3 linked regions of the Homo sapiens genome follow. The protein of the gene in region 3 interacts with the protein of the main gene of each other region in a pairwise test. Each region holds a gene or a part of one and is shown on either strand. Other genes may lie near its edges.

What was found.
Region 1: the proteins of TEAD2 (region 3) and VGLL4 interact in binary tests that used the Homo sapiens proteins (3 or more experiments, as listed by UniProt).
Region 2: the proteins of TEAD2 (region 3) and RUNX1 interact in binary tests that used the Homo sapiens proteins (3 or more experiments, as listed by UniProt).

The regions. Positions count from the first base shown.
Region 1 is NC_000003.12:11,563,897-11,570,923, reverse strand, and holds part of VGLL4 (transcription cofactor vestigial-like protein 4), read left to right. Parts: intron 1-2,125; exon of another isoform or gene 2,126-2,317; coding exon of another isoform or gene 2,318-2,319; intron 2,320-5,082; exon of another isoform or gene 5,083-5,904; coding exon 5,905-6,127; exon of another isoform or gene 6,128-6,638; coding exon of another isoform or gene 6,639-6,665; intron 6,666-7,027. UniProt on the Homo sapiens protein: May act as a specific coactivator for the mammalian TEFs.
Region 2 is NC_000021.9:34,787,284-34,794,310, reverse strand, and holds the end of RUNX1 (runt-related transcription factor 1), read left to right. Parts: intron 1-1,700; coding exon 1,701-2,176; 3' UTR 2,177-6,510; downstream 6,511-7,027.
Region 3 is NC_000019.10:49,345,412-49,352,438, reverse strand, and holds part of TEAD2 (transcriptional enhancer factor TEF-4), read left to right. Parts: intron 1-1,073; coding exon 1,074-1,138; intron 1,139-3,379; coding exon of another isoform or gene 3,380-3,482; intron 3,483-3,593; coding exon 3,594-3,736; intron 3,737-5,075; coding exon 5,076-5,249; intron 5,250-7,027. UniProt on the Homo sapiens protein: Transcription factor which plays a key role in the Hippo signaling pathway, a pathway involved in organ size control and tumor suppression by restricting proliferation and promoting apoptosis.

The DNA.
Region 1 (7,027 bases), on a different chromosome or scaffold from region 3:
TTGTTGCTCACTGGGAAGCAGTGAATTCTCCCACTCACAAGGGGAGAGAAGCCACGGTGATGAGTTCACTCCTGTGTGTGTGTTGTGGGGTGCTTTGGATGAGCTCGGGGACATTTAGAAGCAGGGAGGAGGTGAGGAGGACAACAGAAGTTGGAGGAAGGGACTAAAAGGGAGAAGACATCTCACCACTGTTTATGCCCAACATTTAAATGTTCCTTAAATTTTGCTTTTTCAGAAAAAAGTCTTTGCCACCAGTCATTTTCTCTGAAATCTCCTTAACTCCCTTGTCATTTGCCACAAACGCTGTTAACTGGACTCACACATACTATGTGTACCTTAATGATTTATTTACTCTATGGACAGTTATTAGAACATCTGGTATGTGGTCACCCGTGCGGAGCCAAGGAGATTAGGGCGTGGGGGCTGCAGTGTCAGCCTTCCCGGGAGTGCACGGTCCAGCCAGGGACCGGGGTCCCCTGGGAGCTGTGCTTCAGAAGCTTACTGACTGAGAAAGCCAGCGTGGCAGGACTGTCCGGGGACAGACCTTGGTGGCCGGCATCTCCGCACTGCTCCTTTCCTGTGTCTCTGCAGTTGGGGCAGGAAGGTGGGTGGAAATGGTGCTGGTGGGTCGGAAAGGCCTCCTGGCAGCTTGGGATGGAGCTGCGAGGTGATGGAGAGTCTCTTGGTGGGCCTGGTGTGACGACCCTGAGCGGCTGATGCCACAGGGCCGGTGTCTGTGGTGGGCAGCATGTCTAGGCAAAGCCTTCATCTTCTCCACCTTGGTCATCTCTTCTGTAAAACTGGGATGGTGCTGACCTGCCCTGTGCACATCAGAAACCCCAGGGGGCAGCAGGTAAAGGTTGGGAGGAAGTTCTGTCTATATTATTCAGGTAAAATTTTATTATTTAAAAAGCTGTAGTAAATTAGCAGAGCATACAGCTGACCACTTTAACCAGGTTTCAGGGCACCCTTCAGTGGCATTAAGTCTGTTTTCTGAGGAAGCTTTTTAAGATTAAAGATGTGCTAGCAATCTTATTTATTTAAAGACAGGGTCTTGCTCTGTCACCCAGGCTAAAGTGCAGTGGCGTGACCATGGCTCACTGTAGCCTCCACCTCCTGGGCCCAGGTGATCCTCCCACTTCAGCCTCCAAGTAGCTGGGACCACAGGTGCACGTCACCATGCCCAGCCAGCAGTCTCATTATGATGTGTTAAGACTGTGTGAACGACTGGCTGTCCTGCCAGTTCTCAGATGTCGGATTCTCCTGTAACTGCTGCGGTGGGAGAGAGAGGACGAAAGGGCTGGAGATGGGGCTGTGTCCCGGCCCACTCACTGGCCCTGTGCCGGCCCCTCCTCCTTTGAATCTCTTGTCTCCACCTGGACTCTGGTGCTTGGGGGATGTCTCTGCATAGCCTTCATTCTACTCCTGCCAGGCAACGCCTGGCATGGGGACGGGCTGCTTTGCCGCCTCAGGATGTTGGTTTTTGGGAGGCCAGGGCCCAAGGCTGCCCTGGGCCTCATCTCTTTCACTGGGTGGGAGCACCTGCCATGCCATGGTGCTCAGGGGCCTTTGGGGACCCCAGAATGTATCCTCAAAATGTCTTGTACCCATACCCCCTCCCCAGGCAGAGGAACTCAGACTCAGATCAGTGTAGCTTGTGGCAGTCCACGGTGAATGAAGCCCAGCGCAGGCTCAGAACGTCAGGTGATGGGGCTAAGGGCTAAGCATCCCAAAGCACGTTTGTTGGAGGGTGGGAAACTCATTTTAATGAGTATCAAATAGACGCAGTGCACTTCTTTCACGTGATGGATTCTTTCAATGTCACTGCTTGGAATCTGGTTTACTTTTCCCCAGATGTTATGGACATTCTTGGTTTCTTAGCTTAGAGAGCGTGTGGCTTTCAGTACTCAGAAAGCTCTGTCCTGGATGATGGTGTTGTAGGCCTCTCTTTCCCTCCCTCCTCTTTCCATCTTTCTCTCCGTGGGCAGCTGGCAGTGGAAGTGCCCGCCTAGGATGGGGATGAGGCCCGGGGCGGGGCCGGGTGCCGTGCAGCCTCAGCGGCTCTGATAGGCCTGGCACGGAGCCACTCAGAGTCCTTTGGGTGTTCGCGGGGATGCCGTGGGCTCTCTCGGGCACAGTCCTGACCAGGAGCGGAGGCGACTTCCATCTCCCGGGCAGGATGCGTGCGGTTTTCTGCCGTCCCCGGGAGCACATGACGCCTGGGAAGCAGTGGCCGGGAGGTGATTCATCCGGGCGAGCGGGGCCTGGAAAACAATGTCTGTCTTGAAGCTCCGGGAACCAGGAAAATGAGCTGGAAATGTGAGTAATGTATAATTTTACTAAAATTAACCAGCCAGTTCTCCAGGCCTTTTCTCGCTGTTTTCAGTGTCTTTGTCTGACCCATAGTGCCCACTGTGCTGTGTTCCACGGACTGTCTTTCCAGTTAGTGGGCCTGGAAGTCCCCTTCTCCCTGCTGCCCTGCGTAGGGTGGGCGCACAGTGGGGCTGTGGGAGCATAGATGGCAGATTTAGGTGCAGGGCTGCCCCGTCCTTACCTCTGCCCTGGCAGCTGGCGGCCCTGGCACCCCTTTCCTCTGTGATGTGGTCTCATAGTCATGCTTGGATTTCCTAAGGCGCAGCTGAGTCATCTGCGTGACTGTGCCGTGCCCCTAGGACATAAGGTGCGAGGGGTGGGCAGTGCCTTATGTACCACGACTTTGGCTTTGGACATGGGCAGACGCCTGACCTTTAGTCTGCTCCTCCATGCCACCCGGGGGTGTCTTTATCCTTGCCCGGATCCAGAGCTGTCACTTGGGAGCTGCAGCCCCTCCCGGGCCTTTCTGTCCCTGCTAGATTGTAAGCCCATGAGAAGGCAGGGCTGTAACCCTGCAGTTCTGGAACCTCCACAGAACAGGGACTTAACTAGCGCTGGTTGAGTAAACAGACGTCTAAATTCGGAGGCAGACTGTGTCTGAGGCTCTCCTGAATCTGGGACATGAGCCCCCAGGTCTATGCACTTCATGAAGTGGCCCGTGGAAGCATCACCTGGGGTGGAGAGAAGCCATTCACTCATGTTGTTAACAATAAAATTGTATCTTTATCTGAATTTAGAAGGGAGCGGGACACTGAAGATGAGGATGTGTGGTGACACTGATGAACTGAGTATTCAGGAACCAAGTCCCGTTTAGGTAGAAGCCAGCAGATCTCAGGACTGCTTGGCCTGACGTCCGTTCCGCGGAAGGTCTTCTGGTGACATCGGTGTCTGGGATCATAACCCTTGAGGCATTCATTGCAGAAACCTGTGCTGTCTTCTGAATCGCCACAGACAGATGACATTATGGACAGGCTGGTTTCAGTATTAAGGTTTTTAGTATTTTAACGTTTTGAAAATCGCCAGGATGTGTGTGGCGTGGATGGAACCTACTATCTAGACTCTGCCAGAACATTCTCTTCCATGATTGTCTTAATGGGCTGAACATTTAATCCTTAATTGCTTTTAAGATATTCTGTATCATCAGCCAGAAAATAAAGGGGAAGAAAAAAACCCCATAAACGAATACTGGGTCCTGTACAGCTAATCACCCTATAATCAATATACTCGGTTTAGGGCTGACAGGGTTCTCTTGGCGCTCACTGAGGGCTGCACTGCGCCGCTCTGATTGTTTTTGTTTGTGTGCTGTTTGTCCCCCATTTAGAGTCCTCTGGGTGGATCTTACTGTGACCACATGGTTACATGGGGACGCCGAGGCTCGGAACGCCTCGGGTCACTAAGCTGAGCGCGTGCCCCTGCTGGAGATGGCGCAGAATGACATCACAACATCACAGCCGAGGCTGCACTCAGGCCCCCTCTGGTGCTTCTCCTGCTCAGCCCTTAGCAGCTCACCGACTGGGCCGCAGGGTCCATCTAAAGGCTTGAATGCGCCTCCAGTTGACTCCTCAGCCCTCCAGCTCTCCATGATTCTGCCCACCCACAGTTCCACTCCACGATACCTGCCTTTCTTACACGGTCACCCATATGCTGCTTCTCTTCATTCACCCGTTAAGTCTCTGTGCACCCCTGGTAGCAAGCGTAATGAGACAGGAGGGACTCGACGCCCTCAGAGGCTGCCGTGTGTGAGGAGGGGCGGGTGCGTAGACGAAGAGATCATTGACGGTGGGGGATGGATTCTGTATTAAAGGTTTGCACGGGGCGCCTTGGGATTCTACACTGCAGCTGTGGTTGGCAGCGCAGGACGGGGAGGAGGGAGGCTAGAGCGGCACCGCGTGTACACAGCCACAGAGGCAGAGAGTGGCCGCATCTTATTTGAGGAATGGCAAGTAGATGGTTGGAACTACGGAACACAACATTTGGAGGCGTGAAGCCAGAGATGAGGACGGGAAGGTGGTCAGGCCCAGAGGCTACCAAGGCCCGTGCTGAGCTGCTAAAAACATTCACTAAGGGCTGGATGTGGTTGGATTTGCCTTATAAAGAGATTGCTCTGGAATGGATACAAGCAAAACACGAAATCTGAATAAGGTTGGTAGTTGTCTCATTGTCGATATCCTGGTTGTGATATTGTACTGTAGTTTTACAAGATGTCACCATCGCGGGAGTCAAGGTAAAGGGTGCATGGGATGGCCGTGTGTTGTTTCTTACAACTGAAGTTAATCTACAGTTTTAGAAAGGTACGCCTATCACATGCGTGTGTGTGTGTGGTGTGCGTGTGTGTAACATTCAGTGTGTGTGTAACATTCTGTGTGCATGCGTAACATTGTGTGTGTAACATTCATTGTGTGTGTAACATATTCAGCCAGTCCGGGACGGGGGCTGTGGCTGCTGCTTCACCAGGGCAGGCCTAGGCTTTTCTGCTAGTTAAGACAGGTGACTACTTGTAGACTCTGAAAATAATTTGTATTTCTTAAAATTCACTCAAATCATAATTCACCACCTTTTTCTTTAAATGACCAGCTCATGAGTTACGGAAAAAGGTTACTCTGTCAGCGGATAATATGGTGGATTGAAGGGGCAAGACCCAAGGCAGATGGAACTGTGGGACCCCTGGAATAAAGCAGGGAGGGTGGACCAGGGCTGGCCATGGCTTACCTGTGTGGGGTTGGTGTCTAATAGATGCAACACGTAACGCTGCCTTCAGACTAACACATCAGATGGAGGTGGTGCTGACTGTCTCACCTGGATTCCACGTGGCATCGCCTGGGTGCTCAGCACATGGCCAGGGCTAGTGATGGACCTTCTGGACGCAGGTCACTCCTGCTCGTGTGTCCTGGACGAGAGAGCTGCGCGCCGGCTCCCTACAGCACCCCGGGAACCCCAGAGCACGTGCCACCACATGTCAGCTGGGAGTCTGAGCTGATTATTCCACCACTCTTGAGTCTTGGGGTTCTGGTCTGGAAAGGGGATGGTGGCAGCATTGCCTGCTTAGTGCTGTTAGGAAGACGGGCTGAGCAGTACTGTGAGGAAGATGGGCTGAGCAGTGCTGTGGAGGCTTTGAATAGGGCCCTGCATGTAGGACGCAGCCAGTGACTCTGGATCGTTGTCAGCGTCCCCGTCCTGTCCAAATGGCAGGTCCTTATCGAACCAGCTTGGCCTCCAGCTCCCCAGGCTCCCAGGGAGTGGAGATTATTATAGAAGTGAACACAGAGTCAGGCAGAGGACGCCACTGAGTCGGGGGCTCCATCTTCTATGGAGCTGACTTTGGACTCCGCTGGCAGCAGCTTCTCCGGCACCCAGAGGCTTTGGTGTCCGGCTGACCCGGGCTGGCAACCGGCTCCTCATCGTGCTGCCCAGCCACACGACCTGAGCTTCAGGGTAAAAAATTAAATAAGCAACACGGAGTGCCTGGCGCACAGTCACTGTCCCCTTTGCCTTTGAGAAAACGCCCCCTGAATGCCCATTCCTCTTTTTCAGGAACAAGACTGCCAATGGAGACTGCCGCAGAGACCCCCGGGAGCGGAGCCGCAGCCCCATCGAGCGCGCTGTGGCCCCCACCATGAGCCTGCACGGCAGCCACCTGTACACCTCCCTCCCCAGCCTTGGCCTGGAGCAGCCCCTCGCACTGACCAAGAACAGCCTGGACGCCAGCAGGCCAGCCGGCCTCTCGCCCACACTGACCCCGGGGGAGCGGCAGCAGGTGGGCCTCTGTCTGGGAGGGTGGCGTGGGGAGTCCAGGGGCTGGGGGACTGGGCTGGATGGAGAGCCCCGAGCAGAGGACTCCGAGGGCGGTGGTGAGGGAGGGAGGTGGTGAGGGAGGGAGGTGGTGAGGGATGCCACCCTTCGCCTCTGTTGTGCACTTGGGACAAGGGACAGCAGAACAGGAGTCCTCTTCTGCTTTTACTTCCTGCCCAGACCTGCCCGGGCCTTGCCTCTTAGCACTCACGGCCTTGGGCAAGGTGAATGTCACTGGGGCTTCATCTCTTTCCTCTCCCAGTACAGGGGTGGTGTACTGAGGTGTTTCCTCCAGCAGTCTTCTGTGGCAGGCCTGATTCTCTTAGGATGAATGTAGTCATCCTCGGGTGGGGGGGTCCTACGTTTCTCCTTTAGACGGTCACGCGGATGAAGGGAAATGTCAGGTTGCTTTGCCTTGGGCTGGGGTCCTGCACAGTTGATGGTCACAGGGTTGTGAGCCCATGCTGGTCAGAAGCCTATGATTGGTACATAGGGATTTTTTTCTATGAAAGGAAAATAGGAAATTAAATGATTGCTTAATAAACACAGCTTGCTTGGTAGAAACAAATCTTTTTAAAAATGGGGTTCCTGGGGAAATATATGGGAGAAGGCAGCAGCATTGAGGAGGCTCAAAATTACTGCTTGAGCTCTCCGAATCTCCAGGGACTGCGACCTAATAGGTCCTTAGTCAGTAGTCAGCATTTGCTAAGACTGACAGAGAGGATGGTGCCGTGCCCCGAGGGGGTGCCTCCGGGCTCTGTGCATTCAGCTGCAAGAGCCTCTGTGTCCCTGTGGCCTCACCGGGGCTTCCCTCCAAGTGGCACTGCCTGGTGTCCGTGTCTGATGGGGTCTGTTGAAACTGTGG
Region 2 (7,027 bases), on a different chromosome or scaffold from region 3:
TCGCTTAAATACTAGGAAATTATCAATTTTTCAACTGTCGAAGGCCTATAAAAATGGCAATTTTCTATCATTCAACCTAAATACTATGTGTAATGTATTATTATATATTAATATTGTTAGGATATATATTATGTATAACATATTGTGTTAGTAGTAACATATTTGTGCATCCTTTACATTAGTGTCAAATTATCATCTGCTATATTAATATCACAGATTAATTTATATTATTGGTATATTAATATATTGATCAAATAGAGGGTCAGCAAACTTTTTTCTGTAAGGGGCCAGAGAATAAATATTTTAGGGCTGGGCACGGTGGTTCATGCCTGTAATCCCAGCACTTTGGGAGGCTGAGGCAGGTGGATCACTTGAGGTCAGGAATTCGAGACCTGCCTAGCCAACGTGGTGAAATCTCATCTCCACTAAAAATACAAAAATTGGCCAGGCCTGGTGGCGGGCGCCTGTAATCCCAGCTACTCGGGAGGCTGAGGCAGTAGAATTGCTTGAGCCCAGGAGGTGGTGGGTGCAGTGAGCCGAGATCACACCACTGCACTCCAGCCTTGGTGACAGAGCGAGACTTTGTCTCCAAAAAAAAAAAAAAGAATAAATATTTGCTCTGTGGCTCCTGCAGTCCCTATACTGACCACCTGACTTTACAGTAGTGGCTCTAAAGCAACCACAGGCAGTACATGAAAGAATGAGTGAGGATGTGTTCCGAAGTATGGATGGACACTGAAGTTTGAATTTCCTGTCATTTTAACAGGTCAGGAAGTATTCTTTTTTGGATTTTTTTTTCAACCATTTAAAAAATGTAAAATGCATTCTTACCTCCTGGGACATGCAAAAATGCCAGATTTGGCTGGCAGGCTGCAGTTTGCCAACCCTAGGATTATATCAACATTTTATATACGTTATACATATTATAGTATATACTATTGCACATTATATCTATACTATACATATTATGCTATACTACATCATTTCATATATCATGTCATATTACATTACATGATATTCTATATTACCGTATTATATTACTGTATATTATACCATCCTCCTGGGCAGTAGCAGCCTCCTGATCCCCGTCCTCCTGGGCATAGCATCCTGGGTGACCTCATCTTTTTGGGTGGCAGATTCTGGGTAGAAACCCTCTCCCTAGGCAGCAGCATCCTCAGTAGCCCCCATCCTCCCAGGTGGTAGCAATCCTGTGTGGTTCCAATCTTCCTGGGCGGTAAATTCTGATAGAAACCCATCTCCCTGGACAGTAGCATCCTGGGTGTCCCCCGTCCTCCTAGGCGGTAGCATCCTGGGTGGTCTCCATCCTCCCAGGTGGTGTCATCCTGGGTGGTCTCCGTCCTCTCAGGAGGTGGCATCCTGAGTGGTCCCCGACCTCCTGGGCATAGCATCATGGGTAGTCCCCATCCTCTTGGGAGGTGACATGCTGGGTGATCCTCGTCATCTCAGGAGGTGGCATCCTGGGTGGTCCCTGTCCCCCTGGGTATAGCATCCTGGGTAATCCTCGTCCTCTTGGGAGTAGCATCCCGGGTGGTCCCCGTCCTCCCCAGCAGTAGCATCCTGGGTGGCTTCCCATCCTCCTAGGCGGTATCATCCTGGGTAGCCCCCTGGGGCAGAGGGAAGAGCTGTGGCCTCCGCAACCTCCTACTCACTTCCGCTCCGTTCTCTTGCCCGCCCTGCAGCGGCACCCGACCTGACAGCGTTCAGCGACCCGCGCCAGTTCCCCGCGCTGCCCTCCATCTCCGACCCCCGCATGCACTATCCAGGCGCCTTCACCTACTCCCCGACGCCGGTCACCTCGGGCATCGGCATCGGCATGTCGGCCATGGGCTCGGCCACGCGCTACCACACCTACCTGCCGCCGCCCTACCCCGGCTCGTCGCAAGCGCAGGGAGGCCCGTTCCAAGCCAGCTCGCCCTCCTACCACCTGTACTACGGCGCCTCGGCCGGCTCCTACCAGTTCTCCATGGTGGGCGGCGAGCGCTCGCCGCCGCGCATCCTGCCGCCCTGCACCAACGCCTCCACCGGCTCCGCGCTGCTCAACCCCAGCCTCCCGAACCAGAGCGACGTGGTGGAGGCCGAGGGCAGCCACAGCAACTCCCCCACCAACATGGCGCCCTCCGCGCGCCTGGAGGAGGCCGTGTGGAGGCCCTACTGAGGCGCCAGGCCTGGCCCGGCTGGGCCCCGCGGGCCGCCGCCTTCGCCTCCGGGCGCGCGGGCCTCCTGTTCGCGACAAGCCCGCCGGGATCCCGGGCCCTGGGCCCGGCCACCGTCCTGGGGCCGAGGGCGCCCGACGGCCAGGATCTCGCTGTAGGTCAGGCCCGCGCAGCCTCCTGCGCCCAGAAGCCCACGCCGCCGCCGTCTGCTGGCGCCCCGGCCCTCGCGGAGGTGTCCGAGGCGACGCACCTCGAGGGTGTCCGCCGGCCCCAGCACCCAGGGGACGCGCTGGAAAGCAAACAGGAAGATTCCCGGAGGGAAACTGTGAATGCTTCTGATTTAGCAATGCTGTGAATAAAAAGAAAGATTTTATACCCTTGACTTAACTTTTTAACCAAGTTGTTTATTCCAAAGAGTGTGGAATTTTGGTTGGGGTGGGGGGAGAGGAGGGATGCAACTCGCCCTGTTTGGCATCTAATTCTTATTTTTAATTTTTCCGCACCTTATCAATTGCAAAATGCGTATTTGCATTTGGGTGGTTTTTATTTTTATATACGTTTATATAAATATATATAAATTGAGCTTGCTTCTTTCTTGCTTTGACCATGGAAAGAAATATGATTCCCTTTTCTTTAAGTTTTATTTAACTTTTCTTTTGGACTTTTGGGTAGTTGTTTTTTTTTGTTTTGTTTTGTTTTTTTGAGAAACAGCTACAGCTTTGGGTCATTTTTAACTACTGTATTCCCACAAGGAATCCCCAGATATTTATGTATCTTGATGTTCAGACATTTATGTGTTGATAATTTTTTAATTATTTAAATGTACTTATATTAAGAAAAATATCAAGTACTACATTTTCTTTTGTTCTTGATAGTAGCCAAAGTTAAATGTATCACATTGAAGAAGGCTAGAAAAAAAGAATGAGTAATGTGATCGCTTGGTTATCCAGAAGTATTGTTTACATTAAACTCCCTTTCATGTTAATCAAACAAGTGAGTAGCTCACGCAGCAACGTTTTTAATAGGATTTTTAGACACTGAGGGTCACTCCAAGGATCAGAAGTATGGAATTTTCTGCCAGGCTCAACAAGGGTCTCATATCTAACTTCCTCCTTAAAACAGAGAAGGTCAATCTAGTTCCAGAGGGTTGAGGCAGGTGCCAATAATTACATCTTTGGAGAGGATTTGATTTCTGCCCAGGGATTTGCTCACCCCAAGGTCATCTGATAATTTCACAGATGCTGTGTAACAGAACACAGCCAAAGTAAACTGTGTAGGGGAGCCACATTTACATAGGAACCAAATCAATGAATTTAGGGGTTACGATTATAGCAATTTAAGGGCCCACCAGAAGCAGGCCTCGAGGAGTCAATTTGCCTCTGTGTGCCTCAGTGGAGACAAGTGGGAAAACATGGTCCCACCTGTGCGAGACCCCCTGTCCTGTGCTGCTCACTCAACAACATCTTTGTGTTGCTTTCACCAGGCTGAGACCCTACCCTATGGGGTATATGGGCTTTTACCTGTGCACCAGTGTGACAGGAAAGATTCATGTCACTACTGTCCGTGGCTACAATTCAAAGGTATCCAATGTCGCTGTAAATTTTATGGCACTATTTTTATTGGAGGATTTGGTCAGAATGCAGTTGTTGTACAACTCATAAATACTAACTGCTGATTTTGACACATGTGTGCTCCAAATGATCTGGTGGTTATTTAACGTACCTCTTAAAATTCGTTGAAACGATTTCAGGTCAACTCTGAAGAGTATTTGAAAGCAGGACTTCAGAACAGTGTTTGATTTTTATTTTATAAATTTAAGCATTCAAATTAGGCAAATCTTTGGCTGCAGGCAGCAAAAACAGCTGGACTTATTTAAAACAACTTGTTTTTGAGTTTTCTTATATATATATTGATTATTTGTTTTACACACATGCAGTAGCACTTTGGTAAGAGTTAAAGAGTAAAGCAGCTTATGTTGTCAGGTCGTTCTTATCTAGAGAAGAGCTATAGCAGATCTCGGACAAACTCAGAATATATTCACTTTCATTTTTGACAGGATTCCCTCCACAACTCAGTTTCATATATTATTCCGTATTACATTTTTGCAGCTAAATTACCATAAAATGTCAGCAAATGTAAAAATTTAATTTCTGAAAAGCACCATTAGCCCATTTCCCCCAAATTAAACGTAAATGTTTTTTTTCAGCACATGTTACCATGTCTGACCTGCAAAAATGCTGGAGAAAAATGAAGGAAAAAATTATGTTTTTCAGTTTAATTCTGTTAACTGAAGATATTCCAACTCAAAACCAGCCTCATGCTCTGATTAGATAATCTTTTACATTGAACCTTTACTCTCAAAGCCATGTGTGGAGGGGGCTTGTCACTATTGTAGGCTCACTGGATTGGTCATTTAGAGTTTCACAGACTCTTACCAGCATATATAGTATTTAATTGTTTCAAAAAAAATCAAACTGTAGTTGTTTTGGCGATAGGTCTCACGCAACACATTTTTGTATGTGTGTGTGTGTGCGTGTGTGTGTGTGTGTGTGAAAAATTGCATTCATTGACTTCAGGTAGATTAAGGTATCTTTTTATTCATTGCCCTCAGGAAAGTTAAGGTATCAATGAGACCCTTAAGCCAATCATGTAATAACTGCATGTGTCTGGTCCAGGAGAAGTATTGAATAAGCCATTTCTACTGCTTACTCATGTCCCTATTTATGATTTCAACATGGATACATATTTCAGTTCTTTCTTTTTCTCACTATCTGAAAATACATTTCCCTCCCTCTCTTCCCCCCAATATCTCCCTTTTTTTCTCTCTTCCTCTATCTTCCAAACCCCACTTTCTCCCTCCTCCTTTTCCTGTGTTCTCTTAAGCAGATAGCACATACCCCCACCCAGTACCAAATTTCAGAACACAAGAAGGTCCAGTTCTTCCCCCTTCACATAAAGGAACATGGTTTGTCAGCCTTTCTCCTGTTTATGGGTTTCTTCCAGCAGAACAGAGACATTGCCAACCATATTGGATCTGCTTGCTGTCCAAACCAGCAAACTTTCCTGGGCAAATCACAATCAGTGAGTAAATAGACAGCCTTTCTGCTGCCTTGGGTTTCTGTGCAGATAAACAGAAATGCTCTGATTAGAAAGGAAATGAATGGTTCCACTCAAATGTCCTGCAATTTAGGATTGCAGATTTCTGCCTTGAAATACCTGTTTCTTTGGGACATTCCGTCCTGATGATTTTTATTTTTGTTGGTTTTTATTTTTGGGGGGAATGACATGTTTGGGTCTTTTATACATGAAAATTTGTTTGACAATAATCTCACAAAACATATTTTACATCTGAACAAAATGCCTTTTTGTTTACCGTAGCGTATACATTTGTTTTGGGATTTTTGTGTGTTTGTTGGGAATTTTGTTTTTAGCCAGGTCAGTATTGATGAGGCTGATCATTTGGCTCTTTTTTTCCTTCCAGAAGAGTTGCATCAACAAAGTTAATTGTATTTATGTATGTAAATAGATTTTAAGCTTCATTATAAAATATTGTTAATGCCTATAACTTTTTTTCAATTTTTTTGTGTGTGTTTCTAAGGACTTTTTCTTAGGTTTGCTAAATACTGTAGGGAAAAAAATGCTTCTTTCTACTTTGTTTATTTTAGACTTTAAAATGAGCTACTTCTTATTCACTTTTGTAAACAGCTAATAGCATGGTTCCAATTTTTTTTAAGTTCACTTTTTTTGTTCTAGGGGAAATGAATGTGCAAAAAAAGAAAAAGAACTGTTGGTTATTTGTGTTATTCTGGATGTATAAAAATCAATGGAAAAAAATAAACTTTCAAATTGAAATGACGGTATAACACATCTACTGAAAAAGCAACGGGAAATGTGGTCCTATTTAAGCCAGCCCCCACCTAGGGTCTATTTGTGTGGCAGTTATTGGGTTTGGTCACAAAACATCCTGAAAATTCGTGCGTGGGCTTCTTTCTCCCTGGTACAAACGTATGGAATGCTTCTTAAAGGGGAACTGTCAAGCTGGTGTCTTCAGCCAGATGACATGAGAGAATATCCCAGAACCCTCTCTCCAAGGTGTTTCTAGATAGCACAGGAGAGCAGGCACTGCACTGTCCACAGTCCACGGTACACAGTCGGGTGGGCCGCCTCCCCTCTCCTGGGAGCATTCGTCGTGCCCAGCCTGAGCAGGGCAGCTGGACTGCTGCTGTTCAGGAGCCACCAGAGCCTTCCTCTCTTTGTACCACAGTTTCTTCTGTAAATCCAGTGTTACAATCAGTGTGAATGGCAAATAAACAGTTTGACAAGTACATACACCATATCCAATTGGTTTTGTCTTTCTCTGAGATGGAGGGTTGGGAAACTGAGTAAGGCCCACTGCACACACTAGGAAGATACCTCCAGTGAACAGCTTCAGGCTGAAGCTATGTCCTCACCCCCGGTGCTCCTAGCACACTCTGGCTTCTGAAGGCATGAGGGCCTGGAAAAGGCGCAGGCTCCCAGGGTTGCTTCTTTGCATATGAAAGAGCACTGAAGCATGTTTTAATGCTTGTTTTAAAAAATAATAATAGGCCGGCGCGGTGGCTCACGCCTGTAATCCCAGCACGTTGGGAGGCCGAGGCGGGCGGATCATGAGGTCAGGAGATCGCGACCATCCTGGCTAACACGGTGAAACTCTGTCTCTACTAAAAATATAAAAAATTAGCCTGGCGTGGTGGCGGCTGTAGTCCCAACTACTCAGGAGGCTGAGGCAGAAGAATGGCGTGAACCCGGGAGGCGGAAGTTGCAGTGAGCCGAGATCGCGCCACTGCACTCTAGCCTGGGCGACAGAGCGAGAC
Region 3 (7,027 bases):
CTGCGCCTGGTCTGACCTCTGACATCTAAGTCTCTTCACCACTATCTCTTGGGCTACTAGGGCTGTGACTGATACTGTAGCCACTAGCCTCATGCAGCTATTTAAATTAAAATTAAATAAAATTAAAGATTCTGTTTCTCAGGTCCATGAGCCACACTTGTGCTCAGTGGCCACGTGGTCTGTGGTCAGTAGCCACATGTGGGCACTGGGTACCGTATTGGATGGCACAGATTTCCATCCAATAGAACATTTCCATCCCTGGAAAGTTCTATTGGCCAGTGCTGCCTCCCCACCCCGACTTTGGCCTCCTGTCCCATCTCCTGAGTGTTGGTCATTTTCTTCCCACCCTCCCAACCCCTCAGCCTCTTCTTCCTCCAAATTCCTTGTCTTCTGCGTCTTCTCCCTGCCTTCCAAGACTTGGTTTCTCTTCTCTCCTCTTTCTTTTTATTTTTTTTTTGAAATGGAGTCTTGCTCTGTCACCCAGGAGTATAATGGCGTAATCTCGGCTCACTGCAACATCTGCCTCCCGGGTTCAAGCAGTTCTCCTGGCCCAGCCCCCTGAATAGCTCGGATTACAGGCGCGCACCACCACACTCTGCTAATTTTTGTATTTTTAGTAGAGATGGGATTTCACCATGTTGGCCAGGCTGGTCTCGAACTCCTGACCTCAAGTGATCTGCCCGCCTCAACCTCCTGAAGTGCTGGGATTACAGGTGTGAGCCACCACGCCAGGCTGGTTTCTCTTCTCTTTCTGACATTTTGTGAGAGATACCAAAATGTCATCATCAAGAGCCTGAGATACCGGGCTGAGACTGACCTGGGTTCAAGTCCCAGCTCTGCTGCATCTCAACTGTGTGACTTTGGGCAGGTCAGTTGACCCCTCTATACCTCAGTTGTCCTCATTTGTGCAATGAAAAGAGCAGTCATTCTACCTACCTCACGCACTGTGAGGCTTCAGTGAGATTGTGCACAAAATGCACAGGGTCTTGCTTGTTGTGGCCTCTCAGTAAACATTTGCTGGTGACATTAGCATCTTTCTACCTGGCTAACCCCTGGCTTCCTTTTTCCCTCAGTGTGAAGCCATTCTCACAGACACCGTTCACCTTGTCACTGACTCCCCCATCTACTGACCTCCCAGGTAAGAGCCTGCGCTCCACCCTCCCTTGTCTCCCCTCTCTCTCTTCGACCCCTACTGCCTTTCCTTCAACCTTCCATCAATTGAGGGATACATTGTTTTTTTTGTTTTATTTTGTTTTGTTTTGAGATGGAGTCTCCCTCTGTCGCCAGGCTGGAGTGCAGTGGCGTGATCTCGGCTCACTGCAACCTCCGCCTCCTGGGTTCAAGTGATTCTCCTGCCTCAGCCTCCCGAGTGGCTGGGATTACAGGTGCCCGCCACCATGCCGGGCTAATTTTTGTATTTTTAGTAGAGATCGGGTTTCACCATGTTGACCAGGATGGTCTCGATCTTTTGATATTGTGATCCGCCTGCCTCGGCTTTCCAAAGTGCTGGGATTACAGGTGTGAGCCACCGCACCCGGCCAATTAGGGGATACATTCTTACTGAAGCCCAGCTTTGAGGCAGGGTGTGTGTGTTGGGGGCGGGGGAGCCGGGAGGGGCTGGAGAGCTGAGTGGTGGAACTGGTGATGGTTAGGAGATTTTGGTCTTTGCAGCCACACACTGGGTTTGTGTTCTGCCACTTGCTAGCTTATGAGACATGGGGGAGGTATGTTAGTCAAGATTCTTTCAGCTGCAAGTGATAGAAATCCAAATCAAGCCAGCTGAAGCAACATTTTAAAAAAGAAGAGGCAGGTGCGGTGGCTCACAGCTGTAATCCCAGCACTTTGGGAGGCCTAGGCGGGTGGATCACCTGAGGTCAGGAGTTCGAGACCAACCTGGCCAACATGGCGAAACCACCCCCCCCAACCTCTACTAAAAAATACAAAAATTAGCCAGGCGTGGTAGCAGTAGCACTTGCCTGTAATCCCAGCTACTCGGGAGGCTGAGGCAGGAGAATCACTTGAACCTGGGAGGCAGAGGTTGCAGTGAGCCGAGGTGGCACCGTTGCACTCCAGACTGGGCGACAGAGCAAGACTCTGTCTCAAAATAAATAAATAAATAAAATAAAAAATAATAAGAAAAATGTATTGATTTATTGGTTCCAGTAACTGACAGTTCAGAATTATGGCCTCAGGCGTGGCTGGATCCAGCGGCTCAAGTGATGGCATCAGTCATTACTTTGATCTGCTTTCCACTGTGGTGGCTTCATTCCCAGGCAGACTCAGCTACTTGGCAGCAAAGATGGCTTCTGGAAGTCCATGCTGATATGGCCCTGAGAACTCACATCAGTGAAAGAGGGAGTCCCTTAGTTTCCATAGATTTATCAATTAGGAATACTTTTGGCTGCAAGTAACAGAAGACCCACATTAAAAGTGCCTTAAATAGTAAAAGCATTCATGTTATGAATCCATGCAACAAAAAGCCTGGAGGTGGGCTGTTCCCGTGTGGGCTTAGCAATATCAGGACTGGAATCTCTGTAGTTCCTCTCATGTCTGTCTTATTGTCCCAAGATGGCTGTTGCAACTCCAGGGATCATGTCTGTGTTGGTCCATTTGCATTGCTGTAAAGGAATGCCTGAAACTGGGTGATTTATAAAGAAAAGAGGTTTATTTGGTTCACAGTTCTGCAGGCTGTACAGGAAGCATGTTGCCAGCCTATGCTTCTGGTGAGGGCCTCAGGAAGCTTAGGACCATGGTGGAAGGGGAAGGGGAGCCACTATGTCACATGGTGAGAGGGAGCAAGAGAGCGAAGCCAGGCTCCTTTAAACAGCCAGCTCACATCAACTCAAAGAGTGAGAATTCACTTGTTACTATGGGGAAGGCACCAAGACATTCATGAGGGATCCACCCCCATGACCCAAGCACTTCCCATCAGGCCCCACCTCCAACCTTGGGGATCACACTTTTTTTTTTTTTTTTGAGACAGAGTCTCGCTCTGTCCCCCAGTCTGGAGTGCAGTGGCGCAATCTCGGCTCACTGCAACCCCCGCCTCCTGGGTTCAAGCCATTCTCCTGCCTCAGCCTCCTAAGTAGCTGGGATTACAGGCACGTGCCACCATGCCCAGCTAATATTTTGTATTTTTAGTAGAGACAGGGTTTCACCATGTTAGCCAGGACGGTCTCAATCTCCTGACCTTGTGATCCACCTGCGTTGGCCTCCCAAAGTGCTGGGATTACAGGTGTGAGCCACCGTGCCCAGCTGGGGATCACATTTCAACATGAGATTTGGAGGGGACAAATATCCAAACCATATCAATCTCCCAAGCAGGACTTGGCCAGGGCCAAAAGCTTTCTCCTCCCAAAGTTCTGTCTTTTTCATTCAGGAAGAAACTCCTTCCCAGAAGCCCCCCAGCAGATTTCCCCTAACGTCTCATTGGCTAGGACTGTGTCACATGGCCACTTCTAACTGCAAGGGAGGCTGGGAAAGTGAGTATTTAGCTTTTTCAGCTTCTAAGTGGAGGCAGGCAAGAGACAACAGTACCTGATATATTCCATAAATGTTAGCAATTTGTATTGTTCTTTCTTCTCTCTCTCTAGGGTACGAGCCCCCCCAAGCCCTCTCACCCCTGCCCCCACCTACCCCATCGCCCCCAGCCTGGCAGGCTCGGGGCCTGGGCACCGCCCGGTTGCAGCTGGTAGAGTTCTCAGCCTTCGTGGAACCGCCAGATGCAGTTGATTCTGTGAGTGAAATTTTGGTACAGTCGCTGAGGGATTTTGAAATATAGAGGGTGACAGGAAGGGAATGTATAAAGTCATGGTTTTAAAACTTTAGCATGTATCAGAATCATCTGAAGGGCTTCTTAAAACAGAGATTGCTTTCTGATTTGCTAGATGTGATGTGGGGCTTGAGAATTTGCATTTCTAATAAGCTACCAGGTGCGTTGATGCAGCTGGTCTGGGGACCGTACTTTGAGAACTACTAGCATAAAGGAACTGGAAGGTCATAGGGTGACAAGTTGGGAAGGTCAGAAAAGCTCCCCAGGACATCATTCATTCATTTATCAAACGTGTTTGAGTTTCTACTGTTCACTAGGCTTTGTGATGCATACTAGGAACTTGGAAAAGATTTTATTTCTGTGCTTGAGCTTCTCCTGGGCTAGGATGGAGTGGGCCGACTGTTAGAAGAAACAGCTCCTAACTCTTAGGGACTGAATGCCAGATAAGTTGCATGTAACATTTCAATGTAGGTTCAGCAGGAGCCTTGGACTCAAGTGATTTGGGGATCCAGGCTCCTTCCATTTTGTGGCTCTGCCATTTTCTAAGGCTTCAGAATCTGCTGATGGAGTCTCTGCATCTGGCCAGCAGATGGAGGAAGGGAGAGAGTCAAGATTGTGCAGGAGGTTTTAGGAATCTGACTTGGATGTGTCGACTCTCAGGCCTGGTCACATCCCATTGGCCAGAACTTAGTCATGTGGTCACACCTAACTGCAAAGCGGCCTGGGAAATGTAGTTTCACACTGTGTAAAGGAACCAGGATTTGTGAACACGTAGCAGTCTCTGCCACACCATATAAACATCAATCAAAACATCAACCACAAGACCTCTGTGGATTCCCATTCATTCACTCTTCCATCCATTGACCATTTATGAGCACCTGTTCTATATAGGACCAGGCCTAGGGGGTGTGAGCTTTGCCCTGGGGCTGCTGGGGAGCTATGGGAGGGCCATGACCAGGGGAGGGTCAGGGGCAGGTCTGGAGCCACATGAGGGATGAACTGGAGAGGCGAGGTTGGAGGCTGGGGTGAGGGTGGGAGGCCTGAGGTGAGGCTGAGGCAGTGAGGATGGAGTTGGGGGAGTTGTGGCAGGGAGTTGGGGACTGTAGGACTGCAGGGCTGCAGGGGACTGGGTGCAGAAGCAGGAGTGGGGACGATGGGTGGCAGTCAGGCCCAGTGCTGGGTGGACTGTGTGGAACAGCTGGCCAGAGCTGTGGGGATGGTGACGGCATTTGGTGGGCTCAGGCAGCACAGGCTGGAGATCCAGCTCACCTCCGACTTCTCACCCACGGCCAACCCTCCTCAGTACCAGAGGCACCTGTTCGTGCACATCAGCCAGCACTGCCCCAGCCCCGGAGCGCCGCCGCTCGAGAGTGTGGACGTCCGGCAGATCTACGACAAATTCCCTGAGAAAAAGGGTGGCCTCCGAGAGCTATATGATCGTGGCCCCCCCCATGCCTTCTTCCTGGTCAAGTTCTGGGTGAGTTCTCACAGCAAAATCAAAAGTGCTCACAAATCCTGTGGTGTCCCAGCAAAGGCCTCTGGCCCTGAGAGAATCTGTCGCGGGCCCTACCAGGTCAGCCTGGGACTTACCAGTCAGTCCTCATGGCTTGGAGTGTCAGCCCCCTTTGCAACAAGGAACACCGAGGAGGCCAGCCCCCAGGGTGGGTTGGAGGTGTCTGGGCCTCCCTGGATCCCACTAGACATTGCCACATGTAACTAATACGGTGAGTTACCTGGCCATGTAGCTAATAGGGTCCTGGGCATGGGCTTGCCATGTTCCAGGCTTCCCTGTGCCCCACCTGACTGCACCAAGCCGTGCTGCTAAGGAAAGACCCCTCCCCGTAGCCAGTGGACTTGTGGAGACTGGTTTCTAAAGAGGGGACTGATGCTTTGCATCAGTTTCACCAGACCTTGTTGCTAGAGAATGTCTGGCTTTGAGGAAGTGATGAAAAGAGCCATGGAGTGGCTTTGCCAAGTCCTGTATTCATTTATTTGTTTATTTATTTATTTTTGAGACATAGTCTCACTGTCACCCAGGCTGGAGTGCAGTGGCTGTATCTTGGCTCACGGCAACCTCCGCCTCCTGGATTCAAGCGATTCTCCTGCCTCAGCCTCCCCAGTAGATTGGACTACAGGCACCCGCCACCACATCTGGCTAATTTTTGTATATTTAGTACAGACGGGGTTTCACCATGTTGGCCAGGCTGGTCTTGAACTCCTGGCCTCAAATGATCTGCCCACCTTGGCCTCCCAAAGTGCTGGGATTACAGGTGTGAGCCACCGCACCCGTCCAAGTCCTGTATTTATGTAGCAATCATTTATTGAGCACTTCCTATATAGACGCCTGGTGTCAGCTGCTATTTATATGATTGGGACTAAGAGGGCCCATCTTGCGTGTTTCTTAGGGCTACTTGGTTTGGTGTCCAGTATGATGACTAACACTACAGGGGTTCAATAAATGTGTTTTATTTTCTTTTATTGTTTTTTTTTTTTTTTTTTTTGAGATGGAATTTTGCTCTTGTTGCCCAGGCTGGAGTGCAATGGTGCGATCTCGGCTCACTGCAACCTCTGCCTCCTGGGTTCAAGCGATTCTCCAGCCTCAGCCTCCCAAGTAGCTGGGATTACAGGCATGCACGACCATGCCCAGCTAATTTTTGTATTTTTAGTAGAGACGGAGTTTCGTCATGTTGGCCAGGCTGATCTTGAACTCCTGACCTCATGTGATCCGCTCACCTTGGCCTCTCCAAGTGCTGGGATTACAGGCATGAGCCACTGCACCTGGCCTAATTTTTGTATTTTTAGTAGAGACAGGGTTTTACCATGTTGGCCAGTCTGGTCTCGAACTCCTGACCTCAAGTGATCCACCCACCTTGGCCTCCCAAAGTGCTGGGATTACAAGTGTGAGCCACAGTGCCTGGCCTGGGCTCAATAAATGTTGCCTGGATGTTTAGGGGGTGCTAGTTCTTATAGTAACAAAGGTGGTGGAGGGATCTAGTCTCTGAGAAGAAAGCCTGGCTAGGTGTGGTGGTTCACTCCTATCTTCCCAGCACTTTGGGAAGCTGAGGCGAGAGTTTCGCTTGTGTTCAAGAGTTTGACACCAGCCTGGGCAACACAGTGAGACCTCAACTCTACAAAAAATGAAAAAAATTAGCTGGGTGTGGTGGTGCGCACCTGTGGTCCTAGCTTCTGTGGAGGCTGAGGCAGGAGGATCACTTAAGCCTGGGAGGTGGAGGCTGCAGTGAGCCAAGATTGTGC